Regions from separate parts of the Homo sapiens genome. Here region 2 is linked to region 1. Evidence: fine-mapped expression QTL. A gene starts in region 1. The other region holds a variant in brackets. All regions are shown on one strand. Distances are from middle to middle.

What was found. PIP is the estimated chance that this variant, and not a neighbour inherited with it, causes the effect.
Region 2: its variant is fine-mapped to the expression of ENKD1 in putamen (GTEx, PIP 0.97).

Annotation. Positions count from the first base shown.
Region 1 is chr16:67,662,953-67,678,419 of GRCh38, forward strand. ENKD1 (enkurin domain containing 1) reads right to left here and starts at 3,798. Exons shown (of 7, transcript NM_032140.3): 1 at 3,406-3,798; 2 at 3,119-3,313; 3 at 2,044-2,216; 4 at 985-1,110; 5 at 705-868; 6 at 468-604; 7 at 1-369. The coding sequence starts at 3,490. The coding sequence ends at 209. C16orf86 (chromosome 16 open reading frame 86) reads left to right here and starts at 3,862. Exons shown (of 4, transcript NM_001012984.3): 1 at 3,862-4,120; 2 at 4,344-4,573; 3 at 4,926-5,146; 4 at 5,248-5,803. The coding sequence starts at 4,019. The coding sequence ends at 5,648. GFOD2 (Gfo/Idh/MocA-like oxidoreductase domain containing 2) reads right to left here. Exons shown (of 3, transcript NM_030819.4): 3 at 11,584-13,101. The coding sequence ends at 12,203. RefSeq lists silencers at 3,370-3,639, 3,980-4,029, 4,050-4,099, 4,180-4,229 and enhancers at 10,140-10,199, 14,114-15,070, 15,071-15,467.
Region 2 is chr16:67,504,338-67,519,804 of GRCh38, forward strand. ATP6V0D1-DT (ATP6V0D1 divergent transcript) reads left to right here. Exons shown (of 4, transcript NR_184227.1): 4 at 1-2,066. LOC100505942 (a long non-coding RNA gene) reads right to left here. Exons shown (of 2, transcript NR_104656.1): 2 at 13,369-14,048. It also overlaps a transcript of RIPOR1 not described here. Among named protein-coding and RNA genes, the nearest start is that of RIPOR1, 17 kb to the right of the region's middle. RefSeq lists enhancers at 391-500, 13,805-13,974, 14,105-14,194, 14,205-14,254, 14,515-14,574 and silencers at 9,995-10,182, 10,315-10,484. The variant C/T (reference allele first, on the strand shown) is at 9,123.

The DNA of each region.
Region 1 (15,467 bases):
ACAAAATGTTTAATTTTGACAAAGCAGTTAAAAGGCTAGGGTGGCCCTTCTGCAGCCACTGGTGACTGGGAAGAGTGCTCTAGGGACACTGGCCACCCCCCTGCTCCTGTCTTCAGACCTCTGCTCTGGGATTGGGTCCAACCCTGTCCTTTGCAGCCATGTGGCGATCCTCAGCATGGAGCTCCTTGCCACTGTCCCCCAAAGGGGCTCAGTCGTCCATCTTCACGAAGACTTTGGGCCGAGAAAAGATCTTGATGGCCTCCTCTACCTGCACCAGCTTCCGGTCCAGCTCAGCACGGTGGCTCTGGGCTCTCAGTGAGTCTGCCCCAGCAGGCAGCAGTACCAGCTCACGCAGCAGCTGGCTCTGGCCTACAGGGGGCCCGGGAACAGTGAGAACAGTGAGTGTTGGGCAGGGGTGCCCGGTCCCCAGTGGGGCCCCCCTCCAGCCTCCCTGCCCAGGTACTCACTCTGGAGCAGCTTGGTCAGTGTTTCCAGCCGCTGGTTCTCAGGCATGCGCGTGTGGCCTGGGGGCATGGCAGGGTCCGGCTGGCTCTGCTTGCGGGCCTCGGCCTCCCGCCGCCACAGGTCCCTGCGCTCCAACAAGCTGTGGGTACACAGGCTCAGAGTTGATGACCCGAGGGCAGAGGTTGGTTCCCACCCTCCACAGGTGTCCTTCACCCTGAGTGTCGGGCAGTGAGACCTACTAATGTGGCACATGGCCCTTCTGCGTGGCATTGTAGTGCTCCTGGGCCTGCCGCTGCTGCTCTAGCACTTGTGCCAGGACCTGCAGTGAGCAGGAATGCCTCCGGGGGGCTCTCTTGGCAGCTCGTGCATTGTGACGAATGAAGTCCACCCCCAGGCCTGGCTCCTGCAGGACACAGCAAGCGTGGGTGGGGGCAGACAGCATTATGTTGTGTCCCTGAACACCCCCCCCACACCAGGAGCCCTGCCCAACCACCATCTAGCCCCCATACATCCTCTCACCTTAGCTTCGGGACCTGGTGGGGTTGGCTGGGGACTAGATACATGGGGTGGTGGGAGGCCAGGGCCGCAGCGGGAGTGCGCCCGCAGGAAGTGGGCAGACTCTGTCCCAGAGGCAGGGCCAGGCTCCTGGAGGGCAGGGCACAGCAGAGAGAGCAGGCAGGCTGAGGTCTGGGGCTCAAGCTGCAAGACCCTGGCCATCTTGGCCCTTCTGACCTTTGCATCCATGTCCCTCGGGCCCTCTTCCCTCTTCAAGGGACACTTGTCCTCATCAGCACACAAATGTGTGAGTATGTCAGATTTTTAAGAAAACAACAAACCATCTCTCCTTCCACCTCAGTACTGGCCCAGCTACCACTCTCTTTCCTCCTTCCTAGCCAAGCTTCCTGGCTCTAGCCCTGCAAGGCTCCTAACAGCTGGCCTCCAAGTCCTCAAATCCAGGCGGTCAATTCCTTGGTCTCGTTGTCCTCAACCTGATCGTCAATAACTCCTAGGTCTCACTCCTGAGATCCAGGCCTGAATTTCCATCTGCTTCCTGGACACACTCCCACCCCCTGGGAACCCCACAGATGCTTCAGCTACAACACATTTGTGTGACCTTGCCTTTCCTCTCACTCCTGCTCCTCCTACTGAGTCCCTGAGACAGAGCCCCCCACCATACCCCTGCCCTTCCCACTGTCCTCAGAAATAAGGGCTGAAAAGTGGCTTTTGTGGCCCCTGACGTGGGTCCAGCTGACTTCTTGGCCTAACTTCACGCCCTTCTTTCCTCACAGTGAACTGTACCTAGCATCTCCACTGCTGCGTGCCCTGTGGTCTGTGAGGTTCCATCTTTTGGGAATGTTCTCTTCTGCTGTCCCTTTGACTAATTGCTACTTGCCCTCAGGATCAGCCCCACCATCACTACTTCTGAGAAGCCCCCCAGCCTCGCCCTGCAGCAGAGCCAGGGTCTCTTAGTCCTCTGTTACCTCTGTGACTTCCCTCCCACCCCAGAACTCAGATCAGGGTACAGTTGCCTGTTGGCCAACAAAATGGATAATACTTCTGGCTCCCTGAAGCAGGTACCTGGAGCTGGGCCTTGACCCGGGACTCCACCTTGTCGTACTTGGGTGAGCGCCACAGAGCTTTCAGGGGCCTGGGCTGGCCCTGCTCCCGGCTGCGCTCCTGTTCTCTGAAGCGCTTCTGAATCTCCCTGATCCGCCTCAGGTTCTCCTTCTCATGGTCCTTAGGGTCCTTCCCTGGAGAAAAGATGCCCCCAGGTTCTGCCCTACATGGGGCCCACACAGTCCAACTTCCACTAGTTCACACACAGGCCTGCCCCCTGCCTCCTACAGAAAGAGCTCCCTGACCTCTCCAACTACCTTAGACCCTACACACACTCTCCCTCATCACCGTGTTCCCTTCCTCATGTAGTAAGTATCACAGGATGATTTTCTCCATTATTATTATTATTATTATTATTTGAGACAGGGTCTCACTCTGTCACCCAGGCTGGAGTACAGTGGCATGATCATAGCTCACTGTAGCCTCAACCTCCCCGGCTACCTCAGCCTGCCGAGTAGCTGGGATTACAGACACACTCCACCATGCCAGCCTGATTTTTGTATTTTTTGTAGAGATGGGGTTTCACCATGTTGGCCAGGCTGGTCTTCAACTCCTGGACTCAAGTGATCTGCCCGCCTGGGCCTCCCAAAGTGCTGGGATTCCAGGAGTGAGCCACTGCGCCCAGGTGATTTCCTCCATTATTATAGTGAAGTACACCATTGAAGTACACCATAGATCATCTCATATATGACATTCATCTCTTGATCTTTGTATCCCACCTTGACTCAGTGATGGCTCATGCTTATCTTCAGCCCTGTGTTCTAGCATCTATATGGCCTGGCACACAGTAGGCACTCAACAAACAAATTTAATGGGTAACAAATGCATAAAGCAGAGCTAGGGCTTCGTGGGAACTACCTCATTCAGTTCACCTCCTTCGAGAAGGTAGCATATTTCTCCCCCTTTTATAGTTGGGGAAACTGAGACTCAAGAGATGCAAAGCCTGGGCCCACGTCAGGGTGGAAAGAGCAGCTGCTTTTGATCTCTTTCCACCCCGCACTGCCTCTCTGTCCCTTCTTCCATTCCTGGGACTTACTCTTGAGAGAGGCCCCAGGACCTAGGGAGATCCCCTCGAGTTGCAACAGCACGTCCCCGACGCCGCGCTGGCCGCGCTCCAGGATCTCTCCGGCACCGGGACCGATGCAGGGGCCACGGGGAGCGGTGGTGTCCAGGGCCCGGTCGGAAGTCAGCAAGTCCAGCTTCAGCGCGTTTCCCTCGAGGCGCCCTTGAGCTGTGGGGCGGAGCCGGGCGGAGTCCGGGGCTCAGAGGTGGAGCCAGGGCCGACCCCTGAGCCTCGCACCACCGCCAAGCCCCCGGACTCACCCGAGGTCGGCCGCCTGTAGTTGTCAGGACAGAGCGTCGGGTCTGGGGGGATGGGCCCCGAGATGCGGGACGGGCCCTCGCACATGCCGCCGGCGCCGCCCAGCAACGGTGCCCCGAGGCCTGCAGGGCTGTTTACCTCCCTCCCCGGGCCCCCTTCCCCAACCCCGGGCCCCCTCCCTCGCCCGGCACCCTGACCCTGGCGTGCCCGCCACTCCCGGGCCCCTGCCGGTCCCCGCCTGGGCCCCGGCCTCGCTCGCCACCTCCGCGACCTCTGCTCCCAGCCCACTTCTCGGTCCCGCTCGCGGCCTCTCCCCCGCGGCACTCGGGCAGGGGCTCACTCGAGAGGTTTTGCCGCCAGCCGCTGCCACCCGACGGGACTTGTTGTTGCCGGGCAACCGTGGCTTCCGTCCCCGGGGTCAGGGCCCACTGACCCCGGCGCAAAGCGTCCTGGGGCTTGTAGTTTCGGCCGAGGGTGGGCTCCGCGGTCGCCGGTTTCTCTTCCCAGCTCTGCCCTCGCTTGCTGGCCGGTCTCCGGGGTCAGCGCGGGGCCACCATCCAGCCCCTTGGGGCCCGCCCCAAGCAGCTGTCGAGGACGCACTCAGCCTGCGCAGCCATGGCCTCGGCAGGGGCGGAGAGGCGGCCGGGGGTCCAGGAGGCGACGGTCGTGGGGCAGGGACAGCTCACGGAGGAGCCCGGCAGCGCTCAGACCTCCGAGGTGACCGTCAGGCTGTTTAACCTTCAAACACAGGGCCGCAGCGCTCTGAGAGGTGGAACTGAGCGCCCCGACCCGCTAACTGCCAGGCTGGGCCCTCCAGGCGGGGAGGGGCACAGGCTGGTGTCCTTATTCCCGTTTCGGTGTCTAACGTTAGGTGTTCAGTGACGGATCCCTATGTCCTTTGCCCGGCCATGGTGACCGATGGCCTGTGTGTCATCTCTAGTGTCCAGTGGCGGGAGACCAGTTCCTGGTGCCTGCCCATGAGGCCCGCGGAACCCAGAGTGAAGACCAGCGCCCAGCAGGCGCAGCTTCGGAGTCGGAGCTCCAGGAGGAAGGACCCAAGCTGGGGGAGGAGCGGCCCAAGCCGCATGCCGGGGCGCTAGAGGAGAGAGGCCCCAGGCCCGTGGTCTCCATTGTGAGGCCCCGTCATGGTCCAAAGAGAAAGCCTGTCAAGTGAGGGGGCTCTCGGGGGGAAGGAGCTGCAGCCCCGGGGTTGGGGCACACACCACAGTAGGATTCCTAAATCCTGCACTCCTGCAGGGAGGATTCTCGTCCCCAGCCACTACCATCACTCTCCTCCCGTTCCTCAAGAGCCCCCGTGTAGGGAGCAGCAGGAGAGTGGGAGCTTCAGGGCTTGTAGGGGCCTGGGCTCACTGGCCTCTAAGCCTCTTGGGCCTGGGGTCTCATTGACCAGGAACGGGACAGGCGTCGAGCCCTGGGGCTGTGGGCAGGCTGGGCTATTCCCTGGGCCAGGGAATGGGAGCCAGGGCTGGAGCCTGGCTCAAGTCTCTTGTCCCTGGCTCAGGTCTCTCAGCCTCCCGGGCCTTCGTGCCCATCTTAAGGCTGAAGCTGAGCTGCCACCCAAGCTGCCGCTGCAGGAGGAGGAGCCAGAGGACAGCCAGAGTGAGCCCTCACCATCTGCCAAACAGCACAAAAAAGCCAAGAAGCGCAAGAGCCTGGGGGCTCCCGTGCTCCACGCTGTGGCCAGCATGGTGTCTGCACCCTTAGAGACATTGAGGCTGGAGCGTGAGTGGCAGTCCCTGGACTGTTCCTTCTCCCCCTGCCTGTGGGGCCCGACATGGCACAACCTGGCGCTCTAGCCTCTGCCCTGCCCTGGGTCTTTGCAGGAAAGGCCCAGCGCCTGCGGCCGCTGTACCAGTACGTCAACTATTGCAACCCTGAGCTGAACCAGGCAGGGAAGGGGGACGGGGAGGCTGAGGTGGAGGCAGAGGCAGAGCTGGCCCCGGTTCCCGAGGAGGGAGGTGTGGAGCAACTGCAGGCCTTGCTGCCCTTGGCAGGTGAGCTGGGCCCAGGCCTCGCTTTGCCCTGTCCCAGTCCACTAGTGACCCCCACCCATGCCCTGGCTCCCCTCGGAGAGGAGGCTGGAGAGGAGCCTGGGGGCTTGCCCAGCTTGGGGGTGAGTGACCACAAGGCCGAGGTGGATAAGTCAACCCAGGTGGACATCGACAAGATGCTGAGTGTCTGCACTGCTCCACTTGTCCCCCCGCTCTCTCCTCAGTACAAGTGACTGTCCCGCCCCACTGGTGGCTCCCCTCCTTCCACGCCTGAATTTGGCTTCAGGCTTCCTGTGGGCCTAGGCCCTCTGGTGGCGGGGGCAAATTTGGCACCTGCCCCCACTTGGGACTTTGGTCTTGCTGAAAATAAATATTTTTCTTTTTCAAAGACTTTGTGATTCCCCAGATAGGTTGCCTGAAATGGGTAAGAGGATGGAGGACTCAACAGTGCAGGGTTTGAGGCCTGAATGGTCATCTGCATCACCTGAGACTTTGACAATGACAGATTCCTTTGTGCCACCCCATGCCTCACTGAATCAGGGTGGACCTGGTGCTGTGTGTTTAGGTGAATCTGAGGGTCAGGCAGCTAACTGGGTGATGAAGAGGGAAGTGAGAAGGAGGAACTTGGGGCAGAGAAAAGAAAGGGTCTGTTGGGTCATGGGAAGCAGGTGTTTGGCCCTGCTCTTCTGTCTCCTGGGGAAGGGCCTGCATTTGGTCTCACCTTGAGGGGATCAAAACTTGGGATCCTCCTAGGAGGTAGCACAGAGTTCTTTTGCCTGTCACAACAGTGACAGCTTTGGGATGTTTCCTACTCATTGCCAGACCATAGCTGGACCGGACCTTGTCTGTGGAGTAGCCTCTGGTCACAGGTGACAGGGCATCAGTGATGTTTTCCTGGCAGGCAGGGGTGGACAGGGGCAGTAAGTGCATCTGGGACCCTGAGGCCAAGCCACTGGATGACAGCTGTGTCCAACCGGCAAGGATCTCTGGGAAGAGCCAGCCAGTGTTGGCCATTTTGGAAACTGCACATCCTGGGCCTCCTGTGTGTTCCTTGGACACCACAAACAGACACAGGGAATTTTAAGTTCATGGAAATTTCCCCTTCCTCCAACTGGCTTTTCCTCCTGTATCTCATCTGCACAATTGTTTAAGCTAGAATCTTGGGTGTCACCCCAGACCCCATCCTGTTCTTTGCTCCCTGATTCCTACAAGCTAAGCAGACATTGAGGCCAGTGATCCTACCCTTTCAGGCTGAGAACCTCTCGGACCCCACAGTCAGCACCGTCGCCTGGACCACTGTCATCTCCAGGTGACAGCCTCACTGGTCACCCTGCCTGTCATCCCTTGGCCCACGGATCCATCCAGTGGCCCTGTGACACACACACCTGAGCCCCTGATGGTGTCACTCCCCCTTGGGATTCCCCTCCTCTTGCCCCAGCTACCTTAGAATTCAGTGGCTTCCGGTAATTCCCTGAGCAGTTACACCTTTTCCTCCCTTCACTCTGTGCATGTGGGGCTTTCTCTGCCTAAAATGCCTTTATTCCCACCTCTCCCCCTGGCTAGTGCACGCACACCTTTGAAAACTTGGGATTCTGCTTCCTGGGGAGCCAGACAGCACCCCATGTTGCCCTGCATTGCAGCCCCTGCGCATTGCTATCATGTGGGTTATAACTGTCATCGGGATTAGACCGTGAGCTCCCTAAGGGCACATCTCATTGCATCACATCGACCTAGCCAGAGGGCCCCTTAAAAGGCACCAAGGTGATGAGACTGAAGTGAGGGGTGGAGGAAGCTGCAGAGAGGGACAGGCCAGAATCTGAAATGCTGAGGCCATCCCGAGGCCACAGTCTAATATGTAGGTTCCCTGGAATATGGCCTGGCAAGGTCACTGGAGGGAGTAGGGTGGGCAGGTTCAGGTGGGAAAAGCAGGGTCCCCTTTCTGGCATCATCCCAGCCTGCTCCCTCCTTTGACAGGGTCACTTGGGTGCTCACTGGCCCCATGACAAGCCATGGGGGTCAGGACTTTTTTTTTTCTTTGAGACAGCATCTCGCTCTGTTGCCCAGGCTGGAGTGCAGTGGCACAATCTTGGCTCACTGCAACCTCTGCCTCCCGGACTCAAGGATTACAAATGTGAGCCACCGTGCCCGGCCAAAAATTTTTTTTGTGGAGATAGGGTCTGTGTTGCTCAGCTTGGTCTCAAACTCCTGACCTCAAGCAATCCTCCCTCCTTGACCCCCCAAAGTGCTAGGATTACAGGCATGAGCCAAAACACCCAGCCAAGATAATTGAGCTTAACCTCCTTGCTTTATGTTTGGGATGGCAGAGGCCTGGAGAGAAGTGGCCTTGCATGAGACCACACCCTGGGATCTAGGAATCCCTGTCTTGAGTTGTGCAGGATCTGCCGACCTGGGGGCTCTCTGGCTAAGGCCGGACCCAAGAAGGCCTCTGTATCTTTGTGCGGTCTCCAGGGCTGGAAGCGTGAACGAGGCCAGCACTGATAAGGAAGAGCTGGTCCTGTCTTCTCACAGGTGAGGCAGGAATTAGAAATCGTGGGAGAACTAGTCTGCAATTCCTGAGGCCTATTACCCAATGGACTTGTCTAAGCAGGGTGGGTAGTAGGAGCTGCAGAAAGGACCAAGTCCCTACTGCTCCTAGAAGCTCGCTGTAAAGAGGAAATGCTACATTATTTAGGGAGACGTGTAGCTGGGCGTGGTGGTCTGTGTCTGTAGTCCCAGATATTTGGGAGGCTGAAGCAGGAGGATCGCTTGAGCCCGGGAGTTCAAGACCAGCCTGGGCAACATTTTTCCCTGTCTCAAGAAGTAAAAATGATGCAGCCATAAAAAAAAGAATGAAATCGCGTCCTTTGCAGCAACATGGAAACGGCTGAGACCATTATCCTAAGAAATTAACACAGGAACAGGAAAGCAAATAGCACACGTTCTCACAAGTGGGAGCTACACATTGGGTACACATGGACACAAACATGGGAAACACAAACATGAGACTATGAGAGGGGGCAGAGAGGGGGTGGGGTGATTGTTGAAAAAACCTATTTACTATGTTCACTACCTGGGTGATGAGACCAATCGTCCCCCAAACCTCAGCGTCACACAGTATACCCATGTAACAAACTTGCACATGTACCCCCCGAATGTAAAATAAAAGTTGAAATTATATATTCAAAACAAGTGGCCAGGTGCAGTGGTTCATGCCTGTAATCCTAGCACCTTGGGAGGCTGAGGGGGGCACGGATCACTTAGGCCAGAAGTTCAAGACCAGCCTGGACTATGTGGTGAAACCCCGCCTCTACTAAAAATACAAAAATTAGGCTGGGGGCGGTGGCTCATGCCTATAATCCCAGCACTTTGGGAGGCCGAGGTGGGTGGATCACGAGGTCAGGAGTTCGAAACCAGCCAGCCTGGCCAACATGGTGAAACCCTATCTCTACTAAAAATACAAAAAAATTAGCTGGGCACTGGTGGCATGTGCCTGTAATCCCAGCTACCTGGGAGGCTGAGGCAGGGGAATTGCTTGAACCAGGGAGGTGGAGGTTGCAGTGAGCTGAGATTGCGCCACTCCATTCCAGCCTAGGCAACGAGAGCAAAACTCCATCTCAAAAAGAAACAAACAAACAAAATTAGCCAGGTGTGGTGGTGGGCGCCTGCAGTCCCAGCTACTTGGGAGGCTGAGGCAAGAGAATTGCTTGAACCGGGGAGGTGGAGGTGGCTGTGAACCAAGGTGACGACACTGCACTCCGGCCTGGGTGACAGAGTGAGACTCTGTCAAGAAAAGAAATAAATAAAGAAAGGAGGGAGGGAAGGAAGGGAGGGAGGGAGGGAGGGAAAGAGAAAAAAGAGAGAAAAAAAGGAAAAGAAAGAAAGAAGACAAGAAAAGAAAAAAGAAAAGAAAAGGAGAGGGAGAGAGGGAGGGAGGGAGGGATGGAGGGACATGCAACCTCAGCTCAACTGAGGACCAAGGCTGTGGAACCACAGGTTGGGAGGTGGCTACTTTGCTGAAGTCAGAAGTGGTGACCGGGCAGTCCTCCAGCTGACTCCTGAGAGAGAGAGGTGGTGCCTTCCAGGCAGAGGACATGCCAGGGACAAAGCCCTGCTAGTATGGAAGCTGCCACCTCTGCAGGAGGGCTCTTAGTGTGGCTGGAGAGGAGGGCATGGCCATATGGAAACCAGGTTGGTCAAGTCCGGGGGTGAGGAGGAAGGGTGTGGATAGGGAGGGATCTTGGCGTGACATTCAGGAGAGGCTGCTTGGCCAGCAGGGTGATGGGCAGAACAGGAAAGGAAGTGGCTGCCATCGTCTAGGTGAAAACAGTCCTGGATTTGGCTGGAGGTTGAAGAATAAGCGACAGGTATTTGGGAAGTTCTCTTCTGGTTGCTGTATCTGACGAGCCAAGCTAACTGCATTTTTACTGTCCTGGAAAAACTTTATTTTGACCTGAGGAAGAGCTGGTAACATCCTGAGATTTGGAAACAGGTCCTGGGAGATGCTACTGCCTTCTTCCAGGAGGGGGTGCTGCCGGACAAGTCTAGAACCAGTGTGGGTTCAGTCACCCATGGAGACCAGAACCCTGTGGGCTCCCTTGGCCACAGGCATCTGGGCACATCTGTCTTCCCCATCCCCAGTGTGGGACTGACCAGCTCTGATGCCCAGGATAACTCGATGGTAAAGACGTCTGAGGGAAGGGGCCATGCACCACTCTGGCCGTGAATCTAGGCTCTGGGGATTCCCTCAGAGGAACCGGGGTCCTCATTAAAGCAGCTCTGCATTCAGCCCACTGCAGTACCCTCCCCCCAGCACATTCTGGGAACCCGAGTGCCATTCTGGGTTGGCCACATGGCCCTTTCTTATGTGGGAGCATCTAAGTCAGGCTTGTGCTTTCCTGGTCAATTCCCACATTTCAGAGTGACCTCGACATCCTAGCAACACATGGGAGGACTGAGCTGAGCTAACTGTCCCAGGGACAAGGGGGCAGCCTCCCCTTTAACCTTCGGTGTCCTGCCTGGTGGTGGGTGCTATCTGCATTTCACCTCCTAGTTCAGGCCAGGCCGAGGCTCCTGCCACAGGGAGGGGCAATGCCGGGCCCTCAGGTCTGAAGATTCCCAAATGCTGGGAGGAAGCGTGGTTCAAGGTCAGGCTCTGTGGTTAGATGGTCCTGACCAGGCTCCTGGCTCCATCATGTACAATCTACAGGAGGCAAGTAGCTTTGCCCTCTGTGCCTCCATTTTATGATCTGAATGATGAGAATATTTACCGTCAGAGAGTGGTTTGGAGGTTAAGGGAAATAATAACATACACGTTTGCCCTGAGGGTCAGCATGCAGTAGGCACACTCCAACCCTATCCCTTGTTATTCCCTCTCACAAGGACATCTGAATCCAGGAAATTACAGGAAAACAAGCCTGGTGACGTCTAGAAGCGGTGCCAAGAGGAAGAGGAAGCCCTCCCTGGGCTTTTCTGGCAAGGAGCCCAGGGCAGGGAAGAGGGCGGAAGGTTAGAGAAGGGAACAGAACTTGGTCCAGGCTGAACGATCCTGGCAGGCTGGTCAAACAAGCAAAGGGGAACGCATGTCTTTTCTCAACACCGTGCCCCCCCGCCCCCACCCCCCGCCGCCTCTGGCAGAGCTGGGTAGAAGGCTGGCCCTGTGCAGAGCACAGTCAAGAGCATGGTGGGTGATTGGCCCTCGGGTCCAGCCACAGCTGCTCCATGGGGCACGCCTGGAGCTCTTCCTCCTCCTCCTCACCCTGTGCCACCTCCCTGAAACCACTCCTCCCCGCCACCTCAAGAGCACTCTGGCAGCCAACACCGTGACATTAAGAACAGAACCCCTCCTAACCTCCACCCCAGTGAGGCCCCAAACTCTCCCGCTATCTGCTGAGACGGCAGGCCCAGCAGCAGCCCATTAGGAAGTCCTGAGTCCTGTTCTCTGAGGAAATCTTTTCTTCTGAGGCTCCTGGGATTTGGCTATGAGGGAACAGGCAGGAGACGAGGGCTGGCAGGGGCAGCGGCCCGTGTGGCACAGTTGGCGGTGATGACCCACGCTGGCTCCGAGCTGCTGTGGAGCAATGAGTAGAGAAAAACCCCCTACCAGCCAGAAACAAGCCTTTCAGTATTAAAGAAACCCAACCTACCAAACAAAAACCACATGCCATGTCCTATTTTCTGAATTATTTATTAACATTTCTCAGATGTTCTAAAGCCCTCCCTTGCCTCCTCTCTGCCAAACCAGGGCCCTCTGTCCTACTTCAAAAGCCCAAGAGCTCACTTAATAAAGCAAGCCCCAGTCCCCACCTGGGAAGGGCCTGGTCACATGGGAGGGCAGGTGAGGGTCCCTGAGGGACAGCTTGTTGCCCTCACTGTTCCTGAGATGCCCCAGCCCAAGAACGAAACAAAACTTCTCATCATTTCTCCTCAGGCCTCAGCCGAGCTGGCCCCTCTTGTGCTTTCTCACCCTGTTAGGACTGCGGATCAGGCTGAAGGGCTCCCCAGGGTGAGCCTTTCCTGGTCCGACTCACTGGCATCACCATGAGGAGGCCTGGCGGCAGCTCTGCCCTGTGCACACCGTGGTAACCTGGCAACAGGAACATTTGCCACCCTGCAAGTCTGAGGAGCAGATGAGCCACTGGAGGGGGCGAAGTCCCAGAGCCACCTCTGGCTTCACCCAGACTCATTAAATGAAAGACACTGTCTCTGCTAGGGCCAAGTCCCTGTCATGTCTGGCTCCTGTTCCCCTCCCTGGTCCCTCTGCCCTGTGGCAAGGAGCCCAGGTGCAGGCTCATAGGTTGTTCCGCTGAAGTGCCTCACACAGGTTCTGGTTGGTGTCGGGCTCCTCCGTCAGCACCTCCACAGCCTCCCACTCCCCGGATCGGCTCGACCTCTTGATGGCATCCACCACGCTCTGCATGTACAGCCCATCCTCGAAGGAGGCGGCCATGGAGACAGGGGTGCGGTCCCAGGTGCGGCGGTCGCCCTGCCCCTGGAAGGACTGGCGCAAGGCCTGCACCATGTAGACCATGCCCTTCAGGTACAGCAGCGGGACATCCTGGGGCCCCTGCTCAGGCAGTCCTGCGCCCACTGCCAGCGAGTCCCTCAAGAGCAGCTCCTCTTGCGTGGCAGAGTTCTTCTGCCCATAGAGGTCGGCTCCCCGGGCGACGAGGCGTCCTGCAGAGCCTACCACCATGACTTCATGCACAAAGGCGCCTGGCATGTTGAAGTTGAGTGTCACTGTGCTACACACACCCCCACCCATGAGCATCTGGAAGAAACAGAAGTCATCGCTAGTGACGTGCCGGATGCCACGGATGGCAGCGTTCTGCCTCACGAATGTCTTGAGCAGCCCGTGCACCTTCTCGGCTCTCCGGCCGGTCAGGTGGGTCAGCAGGTCCACAATGTAGGTCCCCATGGTGTGCAAGCCCCCGCCGCCCATGAGCTCATCACAGATCCAGCCATAGCTGGGGCTCAGCAGGCTGCCTGAGTAGATGCGGGCATCACAGATCATCACCGCTCCCACATAGTGTTCCGAAATCAGCTGTTTCATGCGCACGAAGGCAGGCAGGAAGCGCAGCACGTTCCCTACCAGGCTCATGAGCTGCGGGTAGTAGCGCGAGGCTGTCACCATCCGGAAGGCATCCACCGATGTTGCTGCCTTCTCGCAAACCACATTCTTCCCAATACCTAACAACAGGACACAACAGGAAATCTCAAAGTTTCAAGGGGGAATCTCCAGCATGTCCGCCTGCCCTGAGGATTTTGGACTTCTCTGCCTTACAACTGCACGAACTAATTTTTTTTTCTTTTTTGTAGAGGTGGGGTCTTGCTATGCTGCCCAGGCTAGTCTCAATCTCCTGGCCTCAAGCGATCCTCCATCTTGGCCTCCTAAGTGGGACCACAGGTGTGTACCACCACGCCTGGCTAATTTAAAATTTTTTTTTTGTAGAGATGGGGTCCTCCTCTGTTGCCTAGGCAGGGCCCAAGTGATCCTCCTGCCTTGGCCTCCCAAAGTGCTGAGATTACAGGTGTGAGCCACCATGCCTGGCCCCAATTTCTTCAAATAAATCTCTGTCTTAAACACCCTATTGGTTCTGTTTCTCTGGAGAACCCTGAATAACACAGGTGGGCTAGAGAGGTGGGCACACTTCATGGACGTGTCTCTATGTTGTCATGCATTTATTAGGTCATCAGCTTGGGGCAAGGAAATCTAACCTATTTTCTAGGGGATGGACTATTCATAACTTCTACTCTTAGTCATAACTCCAGAGAGGGCCCTAAGATTCCCTGCAGATTGTTCTCTGAAAACACTGGTCCAACAAGTTAGAGTGGCCCAAGGCTAGAACATGTTTGGCTCCGGCAGGAAGGGAAGGAAGTGAGAATACCCTTTTTGCCCTCACACCCATTCTGGGTACGCTGCAGCCAACACGCACCCAGAGGTAAACAAAGCTGGACAAAGCCCTGAGGAGAGTGCTAGAGGATAAGCAGCTGGGAACTGAAGGGATGAATGCTGCTCCATGTTTCAAGATGAAAGCTTGTGAGGATATGAGCAGCCATGAGACACTAACACCTGCAGTGTTCCTGCGAGCTTTGTGTGGTTCAAGTCGAAGGAAATCCTGTGCTAATACTTTAAATAGAAAACTTAGAAAGCCCAAAAAGCAGTATGGACTAGACACATACAGAAGTTTACAAGTCATAGTAAGCCAGAAAGGGTAAAGACACCCTGGCAAAAACCCACGAAAAAGCTCTCCAATGTGCAATAGCTTCTCGGAATAAAAGCCAAAGTCCTTACAAAGGCCCCACCCATAAGGTCTTGATACATGATCTGTGCACTCCTCCAAAATTTTCTTTTTAAAAAAATATTGAGATAGAGTCTCACTCTTGCCCAGGCTGGAGTGCAGTCGCATGATCTCGGATCACTGCAACTTCCGCCTCCTGGGTTCAAGCGGTTCTCCTGCTACAGCCTCCTGAGTAGCTGGGATTACAGGTGCCCACCACCACGCCCGGCTAACTTTTGTATTTTTAGTGGAGACAGGGTTTCACCATGTTGGCCAGGCTGGTCTCCAACTCCTGACCTCAGGTGATCCACCCGCCTTGGCCTCCCAAAGTGCTGGGATTAAGGCATGAGCTGCCATGCCTGACCACTCCAAAATTATCTTTTTGACTCTTTGCCTCCTGTGGTCTCTCGGTTGCTCATCCTGCTCTAGCCACTGAATGTGAGATGGGGGCTGCTGTGCAGAAGGACTTGGGGATTGGGGAGAGGCAATGATCACGAAATGCTGAAGGACTGAGAAGGCAGGGGTGGGTTAGGAAACGAGACTGAAAGCATTACACAGAGCCTACATGCAATGTGGAAAACTGGATACCAAGTCTTGGGCTGGACTAATTCATGTGCTTACCCTTCTAGTTGAAGCCCATCTGGGCAATGTGTGCACCTGGGCTTCTCCTCCACAGCCATCCAGGCTCCACTCTGGCACTCCACAGGTACTTCCTGGTTGGAGGGGCAGCCTTAGGCCTGGATGCCTGTGACCTGGGGCAACCGGTCACAAGAATGTGCCTTCTCCAGGTATGTGCATCTTCAGTAACCATGGTGCTCATCTTCCCTCAGGCCCCCAAACATTTTCTGAATGTTTTCAGATGAGGTAATGGTTAAGACACAGATTATTTCTGATGGCTCACTGCAGGGTGCAGCTTACCCTGATGGACCAAGATGGATTCTGTTCACACAGGCTCAGGAGGGGCCAGCTTACAGCAGAAACAATAGTAACTACAGACAATAAATCTTGCAACAAAAACTAAGAAAACTTCATAGAGATGGCCAATGTCTTGGCTGGGCATGGTGGCTCACGCCTATAATCCCAGCACTTTGGGAGGCCAAGGTGGGTGGATCACCTGAGGTTGGGAGTTTGAGACCAGCCTAACTAGCAGGAAGAAACCCCGTCTCTACTAAAAATACAAAATTCGCTGGGCGTGGTGGCACATGCCTGTAATCCCAGCTACTCGGGAGGCTGAGGCAGGAAAATCACTTGAACCCGGGAGGTGGAGGTTGCGGT
Region 2 (15,467 bases), 160 kb before region 1:
TATAATTAAAATAGAAAAATTAATTTGAATGGGACAAATGCTCGAAGTCAAAGTCACCTGTTATAACTGCTGTCACTAACAGGGCAACTGTTTGAAAATGCTGCAGAAACATGAGAAATGTTCATGAAGTGACCCTGTGGAGGCTTCCGGTCACAGGATCATGTGAGCGCCACGATCACCCCAGGGGTGGAGCAGATGCTAAGTGTTCACCACACCCAATTCTCTTCCTGGACACACAGGAAGATGACATTTCCAGTGACATGCCCCACCTCTAGGCCCTAGTCTTTTTTTTATTTAAAGGTCTGAGTCTTGTTCTGTCACCCAGGCTGGAGTGCAGTGCTGTGATCATGACTCACTGCAGCCTCAACCTCCTGTGCTCAAACAATCCTCCCACCTCAGCCTCCCTAATAGCTGATGTCATATAGGCATGAGCCAGTGTGCCTGGCTCAGGCCCTACCCTTAAAAGCATCCCACCTGATTCACCAGCCCCCTTCTCTCTCTCAGTAAACTTGGAAACCACGCATTCCAGATGGTATAATTTACAGCATGATGGAAAAAGCCAGCTCTCCATGGGAAGCTGGCCAGTCTTCATTGGAGTACATTTTTATTGCATGAAGCCAATGAGACTTGATATTGTTTAACTCTGTGGTTTCCAAAGTGCGGTCCTTTTGAAGTATCCATAAAGTCTACACTAGGTTCACGGTAATATTAAGATGTTATTTGTCAGCTGGGCACGGTGGCTCACGCCTATAATCTCAGCACTTTGGGAGGCCAAGGCAAATGGATAATGAGGTCAGGAGTTTCAGACCAGCCTGGCCAACATGGTGAAACCCAGTCTCTACTAAAAATACAAAAATTACCTGGGTGTGGTGATGCATGCCTGTAATCCCAGCTACTCAGGAGGAGGCTGAGGCAGGAGAATTGCTTGAATCCGGGAGGCAGAGATTGCAGTGAGCTGAAATCTCACCACTGCACTCCAGCCTGGGTGATGGAGCAAGACACTGTCTCAAAAAAAAAAAAAAAGATATTATTTGTCTTTCATGAGTGTACAGTGGGATTTTCCAGAGGCTACATGACATGTGTTTTTTTATTTTGTTTTTTATACTGACAGAGGGGTCTTGCTATGTTGCCCAGACTGGTCTTCCAACTCCTGGCCTCAAGTGATCCTCCCGCCTTCACCTCCCAAAGTGCTGGGATTATAGGTGTGAGCCACTGCGCCTGGCTGTTTGTGACATGTGATGTTGAAACAGGTTGAGTATAGAAGCAGATATGGGAATTAAACCAGAATATTAAACCAGACATTGAAGAGATTTGCAAAAAATACAAAACAATACCACTGTTTTCACTTTCTTTTTGGTTTGGAAAAATGTAGTTATTTTTCATTAAAAGTATGTTGTGTTGGCTGGGCACAGTGGCTCATGCCTGTAATCTCAACGCTGGGAGACTGAGGTGGGAGGATCACTTGAGATCAGGAGTTCGAGACCAGCCTGACCAACATAATGAAACCCCATCTCTACTAACAATATAAAAATTAGCTGGGCTGGCTGAGCGCGGTGGCTCACGCCTGTAATCCCAGCACTTTGGGAGGCCAAGGCGGGCGGATCATGAGGTCAGGAGATCGAGACCATCCTGGCTAACATGGTGAAACCCCATCTCTACTAAAAATACAAAAAATTAGCTGGGCGAGGTGGCGGGCGCCTGTAGTCCCAGCTGCTCAGGAGGCTGAGGCAGGAGAATGGCGTGAACCCAGCGGGCAGAGCCTGCAGTGAGCAGAGATCGCGCCACTGCACTCCAGCCTGGGCGACAGCAAGACTCCGTCTCAAAAAAAAAAAAAAAAAATAACTGGGCTTGGTGGCATGCGCCTATAATCCCAGCTACTTGAGAGGCTGAAGCAGAAGAATTGCTTGCACCTGGGAGGGGCAGGTTGCAGTGAGCCAAGATCGCACCACTGCACTCCAGCCTGGGCAACAGAGCAAGACACCTTCACCTTCTCAAAAAAAAAAAAAGTTGTGTTAACATGTAATGGTTTCATGATATCATTTTAAATAAATTAATAAACATGTAAACATTTTCTCTGTTTTAATTTCTCACATGGTAAATATTAATGGTGTGAACCAAAAAGTGACTGAGGCATCTCAATCAATTTAGAGGTTTATCTTGCCAAGGTTGAGGACACGCCCGGGGAAAAAGAGACACAAGTCACAGTACGATCTGTGTCCTGTGCTTTTTCCAAAGAGGAAAGAGGCAGCAGGAGGGGAGGGAGGAAAGGGGAAAAAAGCGGGCAGGAGGGTAGGCAGGGCGGCAAGTGGTGACATTGTTGTGAGGCTGTGATTAGCAGCTCAGTGACTCTACATTTTATATGTGAAAAGGGGTCGGGGGAGTCAACTATGCATTGTCTCGGGCTTAGTAGATCTACATTTTACATAACTAAGCCTGTGAAATTACAGCTGTCCGTTTGGGAAAGGAAGGCAGTTTTTGTGGTTCCCAAGCTTAACTTTCCCTTTGACATAATGAGTTTGGGGTCCCAAGATTTTATTTTCCTTTCATAATAGATATAACCAACATGAACAAAATTCTTTAGAATCCTCAAAAATACTGAAGAGTGAAAAGACGTCATGAGACCAAAAGGTTTGAGACCCTTTGCTCTGTGACAGCTAGCCACCCTGGGACAGGCCGTTTCAATCTGGAAACACACATAGTACCTCAATTATGGGAAATTCTCTCTCTCTGTCTCTTTTTTTTTTTCTTTTGAGATGGAGTCTCGCTCTGTCACCCAGGCTGGAGTGCAGTGGCGCGATCTGGGCTCACTGCGACCTCCACCTCCCGCGTTCAAGTGATTCTCCCACCTCAGCCTCCTGAGTAGCTGGGATTACAGATGTGCACCACCACATCTAACTAATTTTTGTATTTTTAGTAGAGACGGGGTTTCACCATGTTGGCCAGGCTGGTCTCGAACTCCTGACCTCAAGTAATCCTCCCACCTTGGCCTCCCAAAGTGCTGGGATTACAGGCGTGAGCACGGCACCCGGTCCCTTTCACTTTACACTTTCCATTACTGTCATTTTGCTCTACTTCCTGGAGATTTCTTCAACTCTATTTCCAACCCTTATATTGAGTTTCTCACTTCTGCTATCATATGTTTCGTTTTTCAAGGCTTTAACATTGCTCTCTGGAATTTTTTTCCCCCTTTTATTCCTGAGGCATGCTGTTCTTGCTTTATGGATGTAATGTCTTCTCTAATATCTCTGAGAATATTAATGCAGAATGTACATTTCCTCTGATTTGTTATTGTTGTTTTCATCTCTGCTTACCGTGTTACCTTTATTTCTCTAATATCTGCTGATTATTGGTTTTCTCCTTATATAGAAGAGTCAGGCCCTAGAAAACTGATTGGCAGTAGTAGGCATTGAGTGGGGCTTGTGCACAGTTTCAGTGTCATAGTGAGTGGTCATTTCCTTTAGAACCTCCTTCTCCACTCTGCTCAATGTCAATGTCAATGTGTTTATTATTTTCTCTTGAGGTGTCTGCCAATCTCCTGCCTGCAGGTATACTCTGGCTGCTGGCATTCTAGATCCTTCCTAGAGAAGAAGAGCAGTGCCTACATATTCAGTATATAAACTTCTCTGTAATCATTCTGCTTTTCGGATGATAATCTGACTCCTAACTGCCTGGTGCTCCCCAGTCTAGAGACACTCTATTATCTATCATCTGCTGGTGTGGGAGAAGGGCAGCACCATCCGGGTTGAGTTGAGGAAGGGATCTAGGGTTCAGCCACTTCTTTCTTTAAAGTAATTTTTTTAAATTGTGATTTTAAAAAACAAAACTTACCATTTAACCATTTTTAAGCGTATGTCAGTAGCATTAAGTACATTCATAATGTTGTATACCCATTGCCACTATCTACTTCAGACCTTTTTTTTTTTGAGATGGAGTCTCCTTCTGTTGCCCAGGCTGGAGTGCAGTGGTGCAATCTCGGCTCACTGCAAGACACTCCATCTCCCAGATTCAAGCAGTTCTCCTGCCTCAGTCTCCTAAGTAGCTGGAATTACAGGCACCCACCACCATGCCCGGCTAATTTTTGTATTTTTAGTAGAGACAGGGTTTCACCATGTTGGCCAGGCTGGTCTCGAACTCCTGACCTCAAGTGATCCACCCACCTTGGCATCCCAAAATGCTGGGATTATAGGCATGAGCCACCGCCCCCAGTACTTTTTTTTTTTTTTGTAAGACAGGATCTCTAATGCCAGGTGTGGTGGCTTGTGCCTGTAATCCCAGCAGTTTAGGAGGCTGAGTCGGGCGGATTAAGAGGTCAGGAGTTCGAGACCAGCCTGGCCAACAAGGTGAAACCCCGTCTCTATTAAAAATACAAAAATTAGCCGGGTGTGGTGGCAGGCGCCTGTAATCCTGGCTACTCAGGAGGCTGAGGCAGGAGAATTGCTTGAACCTGGGAGGGGGAGGCTGCAGTGAGCCAAGATCACGCCACTGCATTCCAGCCTGGTGACAGAGCAAGACTCCATCTCAAAAAAAAAAAATTCTTGGCTGGGCACGGTGGCTCACACCTGTAATCCCAGCACTTTGGGAGGCCAAGGCAAGAGGGTTGCTTGAGAGACCAGCCTGAGACCCTTGTCTCTACAGAAAAATTTAAAAATTAGCCTGGCATGGTGGCTCACACCTGTAGTCCCAGCTACTCGGGAGGCTGAGGTGGAAGGATTACCTGAACCCAGGCGACTGAGTCTGCAGTGAGCCATGATCGCACTACTACACTCTAGCCTGGGTGACAGAGTGAGATCCTGTCTCAAAAAAAATTAAAAACAAAACCAACATTCTTAGCTCACAAGCTGCACAAACACTAGCAGTGGGCTAGATTTGGCCATGAGCCAACCCCTCTACCCTAGACTATTGGCAAAGATCAAGAAGTATGATAGCAGAGGAAAAACAGACACTTGAACTCCTCTTGGTGGGATGTCACTGGCACAACAAGGAGTGGGAGTAGACAGTGGTTGGCATGGCTCAATGCAGTGGGAACGGTGCCCCCTCCCTCACCAAGTCCAGAACAGTGGCAAGACCTCAGTGGGGAGCAAGTACAGAGTGCACCCAGTGAGGCTGAACCCTAAGAATTAGGCACCAGTCAGCTCGGCGTGGTGGCTCACTTCTGTAATCCCAGCACTTTGGGAGGCTGAGGCGAGCAGATCATGAGGTCAGGAGATCGAGACAATCCTGGCCAACATGGTGAAACCCCATCTCTACTAAAAATACAAAACTTAGCTGGGTGTTGTTGTGCGTGCCTGTAGTCCCCACTACTAGGGAGGCTGAGGCAGGAGAATTGCTTGAACCCAGGAGGTGGAGGTTGCAGTGAGCTGAGATCGTGCCTCTGCACTCCAGCCTGGCAACAGAGCGAGACTCCATCTCAAAAAAATAAATAAAGGCCGGGCACGGTGGCTCGCCTGTAATCCCAGCACTTTGGGAGGCTGAGGCGGGCAGATCACGAGGTCAGGAGATTGAGACCATCCTGGCTGACACGGTGAAACCTTGTCTCTACTAAAAATACAAAAAATTAGCCAGGCGTGTTGGGGGGCGCCTGTAGTCCCAGCTACTCAGGAGGCTGAGGTAGGAGAATGGTGTAAGTAAACCCGGGAGGCGGAGCTTGCAGTGAGCCTAGATGGCACCACTGCACTCCAGCCTGGGCGACAGAGTGAGACTCTGTCTCAAAAAAATAAAAATAAAAATAAAAATAAATAAATAAATAAATAAGAAAAAGAATTAGGCACCAGTCTTGACTAATGTCCTTGAGTCCTATCTCAGCTGCCCCTTCTAGGGCCTTGTGAGTGTGGGCAGTGACAGACCCTCAGTGGTGGGCCAAAAGGGACACAAAGCCAAAGCTCTGCTCCAAGCAAGACCTGGGTCATTTCTCAGCCAGAGGAGGGGAGGGGACCCCAACGGGGTCATGCACAGCATAACGACGATTTGGTCAACAGTGGACTGCATATATGACAGTGGTCGCATAAGATCATAATACTGTATTTTTACTGAACCTTCTCTATGTTTAGATATGTTTACATGAACAGATATTAGCTGTTGTGGTACAACTGCCTACAGTATTCAGCACAGTAACATGCTGTGCAGGTTTGTAGCCTAGGCGTGTAGTAGGCTATACCATCTGGGGTTGTGTAAGTACAGTCTGTGATGTTCACACAATGATAAAATAGGACTTACTTCTCAGAACATATTACCATTGTTAAGTGCTGCATGACTGTAATTACTTGGCAGAAGGGAATTCAGATTCAGATTGATGTTTCTTGCACAAAGGTGGTATTTGGAAGAGAAATTTTTTTTTTTTTGAGATGGAGTCTTGCTCTGTCTTCCAGGCATGGGAGAGTGCAGTGGAGTGATCTTGGCTCACTGCAACCTCCTCCTCTCAGGTTCAAGCGATTCTCCTGCCTCAGCCTCCCAAGTACCTAGGACTCCAGGCACACGCCACCACTCCCAGCTAATTTTTTTTTTGAGACAGAGTCTTGCTCTGTCACCCAGGCTGGAGTGCAGTGGCACGATCACGGCTCACTGCAAGTTCCACCTCCTGGATTCACCCCATTCTCCTGCCTCAGCCTCCCAAGTAGCTGGGACTACAGGCACCTGCCACTACACCCGGCTAATTTTTTTTTTTTTTTTTTTTTTTTTGAGACAGAGTCTCGCTCTGTCACCCAGGCTGGAGTGCAGTGGTGCAATCTCGGCTCACTGCAAGCTCTGCCTCCCTGGTTCACGCCATTCTCCTGCCTCAGCCTCCCGGGTTTTTTTTTTTTTTTTTTTTTGTATTTTTAGTAGAGACAGGGTTTCATCATGTTAGCCAGGATGGTCTCGATCTCCTGACCTCATGATCTGCCCGCCTTGGCCTCCCAAAGTGCTGGGATTACAGGCGTGAGCCACCGCGCCTGGCCACTTCTGGCTAATTTTTTTTGTATTTTTAGTAGAGTCAGGGTTTCACCATGTTGGCCAGGCTGGTCTCGAACTCCTGACCTCAAATGATCCACCTGCCTTGGCCTCCCAAAGTGCTGGAATTACAGGTGTGAGCAACTGCGCCTGATGTGTTTGTTTGTTTGTTTGTTTGTTTTGTTTGTTTTTGAGACCAGGGTCTCGCTCTGTCACCCAGACTGGAGTGCAATGGTGCAATCTCGGCTCACTGCAGCCTCTGCCTCCCGGGTTCAAGCAATTCTCATTCCTCAGCCACCCAAGTAGCTGGGATTATAGGCACATGCCACCATGCCTGGCTGATTTTTGTGTTATTAGTATTAATTTTTTTGGAGAGGGAGTCTTGCTCTGTTGCCCAGGCTGGTGTGATCTCGGCTCACTGCAACCTCCACCTCCTGGGTTCAAGCAATCCTCCTGCCTCAGCCTCCTGAGTAGCTGGGACTACAGGTGCACGCCACCACTCCCAGCTAATTTTTTGTATTTTTTTTTAGCAGAGACAGGGTTTCACCGTGTTGCCCAGGCTGGTCTCAAACTCCTGAGCTTAGGCAATTTGCCAGCCTCGGCCTCCCAAAGTGCTAGGATTACAAGCATGAGCCACCACGCCAGGCCGTGATTTTTGTATTTTTAGCAGAGACAGGTTTTTGCCATGTTGGCCAGGCTGGTCTTGAACTCCTGGCCTCCAGCGATCCACCTGCCTTGGCCTCCCAAAGTGCTGGGACTACAGGCATGAGTAACTGTGCCTGGTCCTGGGGCAAAAATTTATACCCACATTGCAAGGTTTTTTTTTAAAAAACAATTGTAGTTATGCAGACTTTCTGAACTAATCTGGAGGGGGTCCACCTGCCCAGAGCTCTCCATCTCACTCTCAGGCGATGGGGGAGGCAAAGTTAGAACCCTGCTGTGAGGGCGACGGTGTACGCAGCCCTGGGGTAGTAAGCTCTCTGGTGAAGCCTCAGTGATGGGATAGGAAGGTGGCTTTTGTGAATGTATCTTTGAAGTCATTCTGTCATCATTTTGACAAGTAAAAAGAGGCAAGATGTTTTGCCAGAGGTGCAGGAACCTGAAGCTGGCCTGCTGTTGAACCTCTGTGCAGGAGGGAGTCAGGCAGATGACAGGAATGACAGGACAGGCTGGTGGCCAGCCGTGAACCCCAGGGAGGAGAAGGAAGGGAGATCAGGTGAGGCTGAGGCTCTCTATGTTGCCCAGGCTAGTCTCGAACTCCGGGGCTCAAGCAATCCTTCCACCTCAGCATCCCTAAATGCTGGGATTACAGGCATGAGTCCCCACACCCGGCCTATCACCTTTAAAATTATTTTATGTTATGTTATTATGTTGTTATGTTGCCCAGCCTGGGAAACATAGGAAGATCCCATCTCTACAGAATATTTAAAAATTAACCAGGAGTGGGCCAGGCGCGGTGGCTCACGCCTGTAATCCCAGCACTTTAGGAGGCTGAGGCGGGCGGATCACAAGGTCAGGAGATCGAGACCATCCTGGCTAACACGATGAAACCCCGTCTCTACTAAAAATACAAAAAATTAGCCGGGCGTGGTGGCGGGCGCCTGTAGTCCCAGCTACTTGGGAGGCTGAGGCAGGAGAATGGCGTGAACCCGGGAGGCAGAGCTTGCAGTGAGCCAAGATCACGCCACTGCACTCCAGCCTGGGCGATAGAGTGAAACTCCGTCTCAAAAAAAAAAAAAAAAAAAAAAATTAACCAGGAGTGGTGACATGCACCTGTTGGCCCAGCTACTCGGGAGGCTGAGGTGGGAGGATCCCTTGAGCCCAGGAGTTCAAGGCTGCAAGGAGCTATGGTCATGCCACTGCACTTCAGCCTGGGCAACAGAGTGAGATGCTGTCTCAAAAAAACAAACAAAAAAAGAAGTTTAAAAATAATTTAAAAAGAAAAGACTCGGCCAGGCGTGGTGGCTCACGCCTGTAATCCCAGCACTTTGGGAGGCCCAGGTGGGCGGATCACGAGGTCAAGCGATTGAGACCATCCTGGCCAACATGGTGAAACCCCATCTCTACTAAAAATACAAAAATTATCCGGGTGTGTTGGAGCACGCCTTTAGTCCCAGCTACTTGGGAGGCTGAGACGGGAGAATCACCTGAACCCAGGAGGTGGAGGTTGCAGTGAGCCAAGATCGCCCTACTGCAGT[C/T]CAGCCTGGCGACAGAGCGAGACTCCATCTCAAAAAAAAAAAAAAAAGGCTGAGTATGGTAGCGCGGTGTCTCAAGCCTGTAATCCCAGCACTTAGGTAGGCTGAGGCGGGGAGATCATGAGGTCAGGAGTTCAAGACCAGCCCGACCAACATGGTGAAATACTGTCTCTACTAAAAATACAAAAATTAGCTGGGTATTGTGGCACACGCTTGTAATCTCAGCTACTCAGGAGGAGTAGCCTCATTTGAACCCAAGAGGCGGAGCTTGCAGTGAGCCGAGATTGTGCCACTGCACTCCAGCCTGGGTGACAGAGCAAGACTCCGGCTCAAAAAAAAAAAAAAGAGAGTGAAAAGACAAGACAATCCACAGGATGGGAAAAAATATTTGCAAATCAAACAACTCAGTGCAAAAGTGGGTAAAGAGCCAAGTGTGGTAGTACACACCTGTAGTCCTAGCTACTTGGGAGGCTGAGGTGGGAGGATTGCTTGAGCCCAGGAGTTTGAGACCAGCCTGGGCAATATAGCAAGACCCCATTTCTACAAAAAAAAACTGTGTAAAATAAATATTTATCCAAATAATATACTCAAATGGGCTGGGCACTGTGGCTCACACCTGTAATCCCAGCACTTTGCAGGGGCTGAAGCAGGTGGAGCTCTTGAGCCTCAGAATGGGAGATGAGCCTAGGCAACATAGCGAGACCATGTCTTACAAAAAAATACAAAAATTAGCCAGGTGTGGTGGTACATGCCTGTGATCCCAGCTACTTTGGAGGCTAAGATGGGAGGATTGCTTGAGTCCAAGAGGTTGAGGCTGCAGTGAGCCATGATCATGTCACTGCACTGCAGCCTGAGTGACAGAGCAAGACCCTGTCTCAAAAAAAAAAATCATTAAAATTAAAAAATAAAATTAGCCAGGTATGGTGGCACGAGCCTGTGGTCCTAGCTACTTGGAAGGCTGAGGCGGGAGGATCGCTTGAGCTCAGGAGTTGGAGGTTACAGTGAACTGTGATTGCACCATTGCACACCAGACCAAGACGCTGACTCAAAAAAAAAATTGTTTTTAATTGAAAGACAGTAAATGCACGCCCCCTTGTGGGTGCATGTTTACGCTTGCTCTCCTTTTGGGACTTCCTGGGAACTTCTCACTTGGTCTTCTCAGTTCACGGGGGTTATAGCCCTACAGCTCTGTTCTTGCTCCGATCTATTGATTAGTTCCTTTCTCAGGAAACCAACCATCAGGCCTCCCAGGTAGTATCAAGGAACTGAAACTTTACAGATCACTGCATCTGGACAATATGTTACCAGACCCCATACCCATCATAACTGCCTAATCATGCTGGGTGCAGTGGCTCACACCTGTAATCCTAGCACTTTGGGAGACTGAGGCAGGCGGATCACCTGAGGTCAGGAGTTTGAGACCAGCCTGGCCAACATGGCAAAACCCCATCTCTCCTAAAAGTACAAAAATTAGCCAGGCATGGTGGCATGCCTGTAATCCCAGCTACTTGAGAGGCTGAGGCACAAGAATCACTTGAACCCAGGAGGCAGAGGTTTCAGTGAGCCAAGATCGCGCCACTGCACTGCAGCCTGGGTGACAGAGTAAGAATGTGTCTCTAAATAAATAAATAAATAACTGCCTAACCAGCCACCTGCTTCCTATTGACCAACTCCTCTTCCTTGCCCTTCCCTAATTCCTGTTTTCCCATACAAGATCACATTTCTAGCCTGCTATATAAACCCTTAAAATCTTTTTTTTTTTTTTGAGACAGAGTTTCGCTCTTGTTGCCCAGGCTACAGTGCAGTGGCATGATCTTGGCTCACTGCAACCTCTGCTTCCCAGGTTCAGGCAATTCTCCCACCTCAGCCTCCTGAGTAGCTGGGATTACAGGCACCTGCCACCATGTCTGGCTAATTTTTTGTATTTTTAGTAGAGATGGGGTTTCATCATGCTGGCCAGGCTGGTCTCGAACCCCTGACCTCAGGGGATCTGCCCACCTCGGCCTCCCAAAGTGCTGGGATTACAGGCGTGAGCCACTGCGCCCGGCCTTTTTTTTTTTTTTTTTTTTTTTTTTTTTTTTTGATACAAAGTCTGGCTCTGTCACTGAGGCTGGAGTGCAGTGGCACGATCTTGGCTCACTGCAACCTCTGCCTCCTGGGTTCAGTGATTCTCCTGCATCAGCCTCCTGAGTAGCTGGGATTATCAGCACACACCATCACGCCTGGTTGATTTTTGTATTTTTAGTACAGACGGGGTTTTGCCATGTTGGCCAGGCTGGTCTCAAACTCCTGAGCTCGTGATCTGCCCCCCCTCCGCCTCCCAAAGTGCTGGGATTACAGGCATGAGCCACCACACCTGGCCTAAACCCCTAATTTCGTTCAGTCAAAGAGACGGATTTGAGACTGATCTCTCATCTCAGCTGCAATACATGAATAAAGCCTTCTTTCCTGGCAATACTCGTTTCAGTGATTGGCTTTCTGTGTGGCGAGCAGCAGGACCTAGACCAAACCCCTAGGTCATTTCAGTCACAGCATAAACACTGACTATGTTCAGGCTATGGACTCTATAATTTTCATTTGAGCTTTTAGATTATTACAAATTAGGAATTGTACTTGTGTGTATGTGTGATTTCTGGGTAGCTAGAAAGGGTGAGAAGGGTTGGCATTTTGAAAGTACATTAGAAATAAACCTATGGCTTTCTAGATTTCCAGTGAGAGCCAGTTGTTGTCATTATGTGGAAACTTAGCAAGGAAACACAGGTGATTTTGTAAGGTTTGGAGGTTGGGGGCCTTGGAAGCTCTACAAAGGCCCTGGGGTGAGCCCCTAGGAGTACAGGGCCGTGGTGTAATGAGGGCTACCTAAATTAAAGGAAAAACTAACAACTCCATTGCCTCTTACAATTCAACAAATCTGGAGTTTTAGATAAGTAAATTCAGAGACAAGAGGGGGCAGGCGGAGTGAAAAATGATGTCACCTGCCACTCTCAGATTTCCTGCAAGAAATTCCAGTGGAGAAGTGAATCCTGGATCAGTAAATGAGTCACTGGCTTTCTAAGCCAAGAAAGATGAAAAGCAGATTCCAGGAACTAAGGAAGGATGAATCTTGGGGAAAGTGTTTAGTTTTAGTGTGAAACTGTCAAGCCGCTTGCTCCGGTGGAAACTCAGGGAGAAAAACAACAGTGAGAAAGACTAGCGAAATAGCAAGGAACCAGACGGCTTGCCTGAGAGAGTCTGTGCCTCCGGGCAATTTATTAATAGAAGACTGAGATGCACCTACTCAGCAAAAAAAAAAAAAAAAACAACCAAAAAACAAAAAACTGGGCAGCTCCAGAGAGGAAGACAATATCCCAGTGCCCAAGGCCCCCTGCCATTCATAATCCAACAGAGAGTCATTGAGCATCCATCCAGTTCCTATGGAAGGCAGTGCACATGGATTGGTGAATGAGGCACCACCATCCCTGGCCCCACAGAGCTCACAGCCATTGAGCAAGTCATTGCACTTGTGTTAAGTGAGAAGGAGGAAGGTTTGGGATGGGGGTCCTGGAAGGCTTCTCCAACACCTACGGGAGGATCGTTCAGATATAAAGTTCAAGCTGAGGCTGGGCACGGTGGCTTATATCTGTAATCCCAACACTCTGGGAGGTTGAGGCGGGAGGATTGCTTGAGCGCAGTAGTTCAAGACTAGCCTGGGCAAAATAGTGAGACCTTGTCTTTACAAAAAAATTTAAAAAAAGAAATTAGCTGGGCATGCTGGCACACACTTATAGTCCTAGCTACTCAGGAAGCTGAGGCAAGATCACGTGAACCCAGGAGTTAAAAGTTGCAGTGAGCCATGATCATGACACTGCACTCCAGCCTGGGTGAAAGAGTGAGACCTTTACTCAAATAATAAGGCCGGGCACAGTGGCTCATGGCTGTAATCTCAACACTTTGGGAGGCCAAGGCGGGTGGATTGCTTAAGCTCAGGAGTTCAAGATCAGCCTGGGCAACATGGTGAAACCTCGTTTGTGTATATATATTGCTTGGGTTCCTGGGTTCAAGCGACTCTCCTGCCTCAACCTCCCTAGTAGCTGGGGTTATAGGCATGCATCACCATGCCCAACTAATTTTTGTATTTTTAGTAGAGTTGATGGGGTTTCGCCGTGTTGGCCAGGCTGGTCTCAAACTCCTGATCTCAGGTGATCCGCCAGCCTCAGCCTTCCAAAGTGCTGGGATTACAGGCATGAGCCACCACACCCACCCGTCTGTATATATTTAAAAATTTTTTAATTAAAAATAATAATAATTAATTAATTAAGGTCAGGCTGAATTTTTGACAGAGGCCTGGGCTAGAGAGAACAGGGCTGCTCCGGAGACCTGAAAAGAGAAGCTGTTTGGGGAGCAGAGGTACAAGAAAAGTCTAGATGAGTTCTTTCTATTCTATTTTAGGTTATTTGTTTGATTAGCAAATTTGGTGGGGCAGAGACGGGCCATCTCCCAAGTGACAGGCAGGCTTGTTTGGCACTTTTTGTTTATTTACAAAGCAATTCAATTTCTTGGTGTTCAGGAGCTCCCTGAGAAACGGGCCCAGGCCCACCTCTGGCACAGGCAGAGGGCACAGCATTAGCAAAGGCCCAAGGGAGGGACCCCACAGAGCAGCCTCCGAGAAGAGCCAGGAGTCCCTCGGGCTGGGGAAGTGAGAGGGCATTGAGGCCTGAAGGAAGACTGGGCTGATCTTCAGACTTCAGTCTATTGGGGGGCAGGGTGAGTCCTGGAGAGACGGTGCCCCACGCAGCCAAGGCAGGGTGAGGGAGGTCACACCTCAGCACATTCTCTTCTGTGTGACGTTGGAGATCATTAACCTGTGGACCCTAACAGCTGCCACCACCACCTTCAGGAATTCAGGTCCTCCCTGCCTGGCACGTTGGCCAGCACTCCCACGGCCCAGCCCTGTTGAAGAAGGAGGCAGTTCATTAGATGTGCTGACATTGGCTCTCTTGGCTTCCTGGGACAGCCCTCACCAGCATCCTGGGCTCTCAAGAGCCTGGGCTGGTGGCTGCCATCCCCCCAGGACAGGAGCCCACCAAGTCCCTTCTGGTTGAGGACCCTTGGGCCCTCAAGGATCCCAACTCTGCTCATGATGGCATCTGGGGGAGCGCGGGAGCCCTGGAGGGGAAGGTAAGAGTCCTGGGTCCCAGCCCAGCCTGGCCACTGGCTCACTGTGGCGACCCTCAAGCATGGCCTTGCTCCCTCTGGAACTCAGTGACCTCTGAGATCTGGGACCTCTGAGTCTGGGAATTGGGCAGGGTGACAGAGTCAGGTGACTCAACCTGCACCCGGTCTTGGGGTGTGGAACCCTGAGCAGAGCAGGTGGCGCTCTTGGAAGGGGAGGCAGACAAGGGCAGAGAAGGGGGCTGCACAGGGCTTTGTAAGAGAGAAGGAGAGGTTCCGGACCCAGCCTGCGGTCCAGGAAACTGTCTCAAAGGAAGTGGGTCTCGGCTGAGACCTCAAGGGTGAGCAGCAGTTAGGCGAAGGAAAGAGGAAAAGGCATTCAACTGTACGGCCCAGGCCAGGCGCAGTGGCTCATGCCTGTAATCCCAGTAATTTGGGAGGCTGAGGTGGGTGGATCACCTGAGGTCAGGAGTTTGAGACCAGCCTGGACAACACGATGAAACCCGGCCTCTACTAAAAATGCACTACTACGCGTGCTGATGCACATTTGTAGTGCCAGCTACTTGGGAGTCTGAGGCATGAGAATTGCTTGAACCTGGGAGGCGGAGGTTGCAGTGAGTGGAGATTGTGCCACTGCACTCCAGCCTGGGCAACAGAGAAAGACTCTGTTTCAAAAAAAAAAAAAAAACACTTCAGGGCCCACCCTGTGCAAAGATGGAGAGGTAGGGAAGGCAGGGTGTATCCAGGGACACAAAGAAGTTCAGTCCAGCTGGAACTACGCCCTCCTAAGGAGGAACTGGCCAGGGGTGAGGGGCCAGTGGGGAAGTGAGGAGAGACAGGTCCCACGGGCAGAGGTCATCCAGCTGCTGCGTGGACAATGAACAAGGACACCGAGTGATGTGTATCCTTGGCAAGTGATAGTCTAGCCAAGGGCAGGAAAGTGGGCATAGGGAAGAGGGGACTCACTTGGTGGCTGGAGGGTGTCAGGGAAGAGGTCTGGGGAAAGATTACATGGGGACCCAGGAGGGAGGGCAGTTCTGAAGGGAGGAGATGGGGCTGACTTTACACAATGGATTTGGAGGTGTCCGAAGGTCATCCTAAGTGGGGGAAGTGGAGCAAGAGATGTGGGGGATGAGACTCAAGTCATCACTGTGGGAACAAAAAGGAGGCTCTGGCCAGTGCGGTGGCTCACGCCTG